Homo sapiens: one gene and its partner. The protein of the gene in region 2 purifies or fractionates together with the protein of the main gene of each other region. This does not show direct contact. Each region holds a gene or a part of one and is shown on either strand. Other genes may lie near its edges.

What was found.
Region 1: the proteins of UCK2 (region 2) and DCAF6 purify together in Homo sapiens (affinity purification with mass spectrometry; one large-scale study listed by BioGRID and IntAct). This does not show direct contact.

What each region holds. Positions count from the first base shown.
Region 1 is NC_000001.11:168,047,904-168,051,727, reverse strand, and holds part of DCAF6 (DDB1- and CUL4-associated factor 6), read right to left. Parts: intron 837-3,824; coding exon 795-836; intron 1-794. UniProt on the Homo sapiens protein: Ligand-dependent coactivator of nuclear receptors. Enhance transcriptional activity of the nuclear receptors NR3C1 and AR. May function as a substrate receptor for CUL4-DDB1 E3 ubiquitin-protein ligase complex.
Region 2 is NC_000001.11:165,834,091-165,837,914, reverse strand, and holds part of UCK2 (uridine-cytidine kinase 2), read right to left. Parts: intron 1-3,824. UniProt on the Homo sapiens protein: Phosphorylates uridine and cytidine to uridine monophosphate and cytidine monophosphate. Does not phosphorylate deoxyribonucleosides or purine ribonucleosides. Can use ATP or GTP as a phosphate donor.

The DNA of each region.
Region 1 (3,824 bases), 2.2 Mb from region 2:
AACCAGAAATTTCCATACATCTATTATATTTTTTGGCTTATTTCATGACTTCTGTATTTTTCATTAGGAACTCTACAAACTTTACATTTCTGATTGTTGCTATATGTTTCATGTTCAACTGTTTTAGAAACTGATGGTAAATAACAGATATATGCCTCTAGAGTTAAGTACAAGGTTGATTTTGTCAGCAAAACAGGTTTTCAGTAGGTGACTGATGTCATTGAGGTTCACTTTAAAGATCTACTCAAAAATATGTCCCAAATAGAGAAGTGCTTGAGGCTTATATATCATCTTGATATGTGACACTATTTCTAAACTATTTATAAGGAAACAACTTTCTTGCAAAAATCAGAAACCTATACACAGATTTAGATTCAAGTACATTTTTAGTTATTGAGCTCAAGGAAAAGGAGCATATACGAATAACAAAAAGTTGGTAATTGTTATCCCAATCAAATTTAAAAAACATAAATTGCATTCTTCAACAAAATATCCAAAAAGAGTAACTGATACTTAAAGTACATCATTTCAGATTATAGTTACTTTGCCATATGACATATTTGAAGTGAACATCAGTCTGCACACAGGAAATTTCTTTTCATTCTATCCCCATGCAGTGCATGCAGCTAAATATAGTTTGTGGAAAGCGACCTGCTTTACAATGCTTAGCACTTAGAATTCAGTAAGTCCAAAGGGAGTATTAACTGTTAATAGGAAAGGTGGTTAGCTGTGGCAAAAGAAGACCTGGCAAATCCATCATAAAAAAAAAATTATGAAGGAACATACTGAATTACCTCATTATTCTATCACCTATTGTTGTTCCTCTGATATTAAATCTAGTGAAGGGAACACAATAACTGAAATCACTTACAAAGACTTCAAAGAACCAAATATTTAAAGCATTAAGGACACCCTTTTTATCATCAATCATCTCAATTTAAAAAAAAACTTTTGTTTCCCTTTGTGACTTCGGGCATTAAGCAAGGAATATGTCAGTCAACTAAATGTATATGAAGAAATTAAGGAAACAGAAACACTCATTGAAGCTAGAATAGAAGGAAGACATTGCACTTAATCCCTTTTATCTTTTAAATAAATCAGAACCCAATCCTGTCACAGTATGGGAAACTGCACTGGCTTATAATGAATACCATCCTCTGGAACACGTACATGCTCCTCAAAGCTGAGGAGCTCTTTGGAAAATAAATAATTAAGCCCTAAGCTAATTCACTTGGCCTAACCACAAGACTATATAACAAATGAGCAAAGAATAACAGGGCTTTTAACTCCCTAGGAGTCCAGTTCTTTCTCTTTGAGTACATCTTTTCTCTCTGCAATTTTCTTTAATAAAGAGTAAACTGCAATAATGAGAAATAAGGAAATCATGGTTACAATGATGACTGAATAAATGCTGCCAAATTTACAGTACAAGGAATTTTGGCTTTAAAAGTGAGGGCTATGCTCCATGGTCCAGAGTAGGTATATGGAACCAAATTTCTATGAAAATAACACTTTAAAAGTTATTAAAGGGCAATATAGGATAAATCACTCTTTAGGGAAAAAATTGTTAGATCATCCTAACTGAGGCTATAATTAAAAACTATTCAAGACTATGTGAGGACTTATTCAGGAAGCTTTCTTAGATGCTTGTTTTTTTTTTTCAGAGAGTAATTTAGGTTTTCTCTTGAGTTTAGAAACAGTAAGAGCTACCAATCAGGCCGTCAAATCACTTACAACAGATTTGGCATTGTAAAAAAAAAAAAAAATTATACAGCCTGGGTGCGGTGGCTCATGCCGGTAATCCCAGCACTTTGGGAGGCTGAGGCAGGCGGATCACGAGGTCAGGAGATCGAGATCATCCTGGCTAACACGGTGAAACCCCGTATCTACTAAAAATACAAAAAATTAGCTGGGCGTGGTGGCAGGCGCCTGTAGTCCCAGCTACTTGGGAGGCTGAGGCAGGAGAATGGCGTGAACCTGGGAGGCAGAGCTTGCAGTGAGCCAAGATTGCCCCACTGCACTCCAGCCTGGGTGAGGGAGCGAGACTCCGTCTCCAAAAAAAAAAAAAAAAAAAAAAAAAATTATATGCAGATTATCTAAACAGAGATCTCAACCACACTCTTTTCATTCCAAGGGCATATATTTACGTTTCTTAACCCAGTATATGGCCAGGCGCGGTGGCTCACGCCTATAGTCCCCCAGCACTTTGGGAGGCTGAGGCTTGAGGCCAGGAGTTCAAGACCAGCCTGGTCAACATAGTGAGACTGTCTCTTCTAAAAAAAAAAAAAAAAAAAAACAACAACAACAACAACAACAAATTAGCAGAGTGCAGCAACATGCACCTGTAATCCCAGCTACTTGGGAGACTGAGGGAGGAAGATCGCTTGAGCCCAGGAGTATGAGGTTGCAGTGAGCTATGATCATACCACTGCACTCCAGCCTGGGCAACAGGGCAAGACCCTGTCTCAAAAAAATAAAACAAAATGAAATAAATACAGTATATAAAATCACTAAAAGATACACATACTATTTTTTTGCTTTGTTTTGCTTTTTTCCTAAGTCAGACTTATTTTTGACATTAGGACTAATTTTATTTTTTTAAACACCATGATTAGAGAACAAACATTTCTTTCTGTCTTTTTTCAATTTATTTCCCATTTACTGTTCCATGTTCTTGCCTTACGCAAAGTTAAAGGGAACCCAAATATGTGGAGATTCATATTATTTCATTGTTTCAAAGTCTGGATTTTTGCCAGTAGAGGCATTTTACCACAGACTATAGTTTGATTTCTCTCTATAACACTGATTACTATAGAGCAGGTATTTGCAAGCTATGGCTCTTGGGCTAGATCTCCGCCAAATGCCGATTTTTGAAATGAACCTTAGGCTAAGAATAGTTTTTACATTTTTAAATGTTAATATTTTAAATGGTCATATAAGTACCTACCATAATGGTCTCCATTTTGTCTCCTGGCCAACAAAGCCAAAATATTTACTATATGGCTCTTTAGGAGTAAGTCTGCTGCTCTGCTATAGACTCCCAGTTACATTTACATAGACTTGCTGTAGTTAATGAGAAGAGCATTCCATTTAAAAATATCTATGTTAGTTGTTAAGGTCTTCATTTTCTAAGACATTTCCTTCTCATGCTTGATCTCAGCCCAAAAGTGAAAACCTGGGTCATTTATTTAACCAAATTATAAGAATGTAAATATTTTTTTAAAAATCATTACTCTGTATTGCAAGGAACTGTTCTGATATTTTCAGTAAATTTGTCAGAAATGACTTAGCTATAAAGCCTTTTAAAGTTTCCTTTTAAAAATTAAATTTGGAACAAAAACTGATGAGGTCCACTATATAGTTCTTCATATAAAGTACAGATCAAATTAAGTATACACTTGTATAATATTTAATTTTAGGACCACTTCTCTACCCCAGCTAAACTAATATTGACTGGGCTTTGCAAATGGCAGCATGGAGGGAACTTTAAGACATACATCCTTTTAGGTGGGCATTTCATCCATGTGTGCAATGTATCCTTGGACTCTAGGAACCAAATGGTATGATTGTTACAACAGAGCTTCACAACCCTTAGTCTCTTGGGAAACAGAAACTCTCCAAAATCATAGGACTAATTACAAGCTGGTAAGTGATTCTTTTCATGTTCTTAAGAAGCAAAATCTCTTAAACTTTCTCTCTTTAGAATAAAAGTCAGCTAAATTGAGAAGTAAGATAAACTGGCAGGAGTGTCAATGATGAAGAGCCCTTAGAAAGGTGCAGAAATATTAAAAGTATACTTTTTTACAGTTGTTCAAGATTAAATC
Region 2 (3,824 bases):
TGAGCAACTAGAAAGATGAAGCTGTCATCAACTGAGATGGTGAGGTTAAAGATTGAGCACGTTCAAGGGGTGAGATGAGGAGTTCAATATTGGAAATGTTGAGATTCCTATGATACACAGAGTTTGAAAAAAAATTACTTAATATTTGGTTATTCTACAAACATTTGAGAACCTCCTCATCCTTCCCGTTTTTGGACACTTGTTAGCTTCAGGCAATAGTGAGGTAAAACAAAGTCCCTGATCCTGAGAGCTCAGTCTAGAGAAGATAGACTAAACAAGCAAGGACCACACAGGGCAAGGGAAAAAAATTCTGTAACTGAGGTCTGTTTAGGATGCTTTGGCAACATAGAAGAGGAGGCCCCAAAAAGAGCAAAAGAGCAACACCTGCAAAGGCTTAAAAGTGACAGTAAGCATACTGAAGGGTCCCAGGACCTTCAGGAAATCTAACTGGTATCCAGTTGAGATGAATGTTAGCAAACGGCAGGGGATGTCAGTCTTTCAGAACCCCACCAAAGAAAGCTTACAAATGACTACCACTTACACAGGTTCAGATTCAAGAAGTACTTTGTGTGACCAGTGGTAACAATTACAGGATACTCAAGGCTAGTTACAGAACTGTCAAAATGTAAGGGCTTGTAAGGACCCTCTTCTGTAGATGAATATACAGATACTTAATAAGTAAGTGGCAACAGTGGGCTGGAACACAAGGGCTGTGGTTTGAAAGTGTCCTCCAAAGTTCACGTGTTGAAAACTTGATGCCCAATGTGGCAGTGTTGGGAAGTGGGGCCTGATGGGAGGTGTTTGCATCTTGGAGGCACCACCATCATGAACTGGATTAATGCCATTATCGTGGGAGCAGATTCGTTATGACAGGGGTGGGTTCCTTATAAAAGGAACCTCTTGTTTGAAACTTTTGTGCACGAGGACAGGCACTTCCCTCCCCCTCCTCTCCTCCTGCCCTTCTGCCTTCCAGGACGGGATGACCATGACACAGCAAAAAGGCCAGGTGTCAGGCACTCAATCTTGGACTTCTTAGCCTCCAGAACTGTAAGAAATAAATTTCTGTTCATTATCAGGTATTCTGCTATAGCAGTACAAAACAGACTAAGACACCAAGCTACCTAAATCAGTTGTCTTCAAACTAGGGTACATGAAAACTTCCTGAGCCACATGAAAGCAAGCATACTTTTTCACAATCAGGCTTCTCCCACTTTACAAAATAAAGGCCCATCACCCCTCCACTCTGAATCCATGCAAAAAGGTGATCTAAAATACTCGAGCTGATACTGGAAGATGAATGACTTAATGACTGAATAACAATTCCTTTTACAAGTCTGGAGGTTTCCAGTTTTCCTGCTTTCTACAAAATTAGAGGAGATGAATGGCAAGCTAGTTGATTCAAAAAATCCACTGTATTTTGACATATAATTTTAAAGGTAAAAACTGAGTCTAAGTGACCTTCATATAACAATATTCTGTCCATTTCCATCTACTTATTTATGTCAACAGGGTTCCTTAAAGCTTAGATCTATACAAATGAAAAATCTTATTCTAGTATTAAATAGTAATTATCCACAGAATCATCAAATAATTGGGGGTGGAAGGCTCTATCTCATCAAGATGTTTTCTTCAAAAAAATGTATAACATATCCATTTGGTTGTTTTTTTTGTTTTGTTTTTTGTTTTGAGACGGAGTCTTGCTCTTGTCGCCCAGGCTGGAGTGTAGTGGTGCAATCTCAGCTCACTGCAACCTCTGCTTCCTGGGTTCAAGTGATTCTCCTGCCTCAGCCTCCGGAGTAGCTGGGATTACAGGCACCAGCCACCATGCCCAGCTAATTTTTGTATTTTAGTAGAGACGGGGTTTCCCCATGTTGGCCAGGCTGGTCTTGAACTCCTGACCTTAGGTAATCTGCCTGCCTAGGCCTCTCAAAGTGCTAGGATTACAGGCATGAGCCACCGCGCCCGGCAGTATCCATTTGTTTTGATGAATTTTATACTAATAAGTACAGTAGTAATGCAATCGAAAAGAAATAAATACTTAGATTCATGAGAACAGGAAATAAAATTTTAATGTATACTTCTGTCACGTGTGATAGAACGACCAATAAAATATTTTCAAGCATAAAAATAAATGAAATTAAATTAATATTTTGCAGGGGAAGTGGAACTGAAATATGATTGAGGAAAAAAGAAAAATAAACATTTCTGACTCAAATAAGAGCTTGTTCATCTACATGTTTTAAAATGTATGACAATAGGTCAAATTATTATAGATTTAGAGCCCATCAGATACATTTAAAAGAATAATGAAACAATTGTTGTTTTTAAGTGTATATTTACAATATATCAGAAATCACTTCCTTTTCAACTCTTTATTTATAATGAAAAAAACTGATGTCAAAAATATGTGATGGGGCCCAGTACAGTGGCTCTTGCCTGTAGTCCCAGCACCTTGGGAGCCCAAGACAGGACGACCGCTTGAGGCCAGGAGTTCATGCCAGCCTGGGCAACATAGTGAGACACAGTCTCTGAAATAATAATAATAATAATAATAACTAATTTTAAAAATACATATTTTTACAACATATAAAAATATATATATTATATGTGCAAAATGGGATGAAGAATTCTCCAGAATTCTCTTAGCGGTTATGAATACAAAAATGTCTTTTAGACCATAGTCCAAAATCAGCACTGTTATCAGCCCATTCTATCACAAGCTTTCTCTAGACAGCCTAGGAGACTAGAAGCCTGCGAAGGGCAAAGACAGTGCTCATCTCCACTCCCAGGGAAAAGCAATCCCAGAAACACAGAACTTTGGACTTCTAGAGGACAGGCAAGGGAAAGCAGAGCATGCTAGCTGAGATGACAAAACAGCCCTTGCTCCCTGCTAGTCAGCCAAAAAAAAGGTAAAAATGTCAGACCAAATAGCATACTTATGGGCTGAATAAAGAAATAAAGAAGCACAACTCTACAACCCACACAAAATTGTTATGTTTCTGCCATGTACGTACCAGGCAAAATTCTTACCAAACACTACATGGGACAGGAAGAAAAAGTACTGCCTGCTGGTCACCTGTCCCATAGGGTACTGAAGGTTAAGTGTAGGCATTCACAGAAATACTGACACTTTTCCTGTAGTTTCACAGGGAGAAACCAAGTAAAAACAACTGCTTTAAAAAAAACAAAAAAAGAAAGAAAGAAACCCATGTTATGGAAAGAGTATTGCCAATAGCGAGTTGGCAAAGCAAACTGAATTTTTCAGAGTTGTCACCTTCTGTCATTGTTCAAAATTCTCAGGCATACATTTAGAACCACTGCCCCCTCATCCAATCAAATTATGGCTTATGAGGCCTGAAAGCCTAATGCTGGAGGGCTTTATATGGTTCTTTATATTTTTCAGGTTATTCTATTAAATTGTCTACTAATTGCACTTTTTTTGTTTTTTCTGATATAGGGTCTTGCTCTGTTGCCCAGGTTGGATTGCAATGGTGGGACTAAGGCTCACTCCAGCCTCAACCTCCCAAGGCTCAGGCAATCCTCCCACTTGAGTCTCCCAAGTAGCTGGGACTACAGGATGAAAATTTTCTAGCTCGTTTTAAGGAAAAGCCATAGCATAACTGGAGGATGGGAATATCATGATTTAGTAAGTACTACAAAATGATGACTTTCCTCTACTTGGATCTTTTTAGAGGTAACTTTTTCAAATATGATAATCATTAAATAAAAATTCAGAAGACTAAACTTAGAACAAAACCTTCAGTCTTGAATGACCACCAAAACTAACACCACCAAGGTCATCCAAGACTCACCAAGTATTAAAC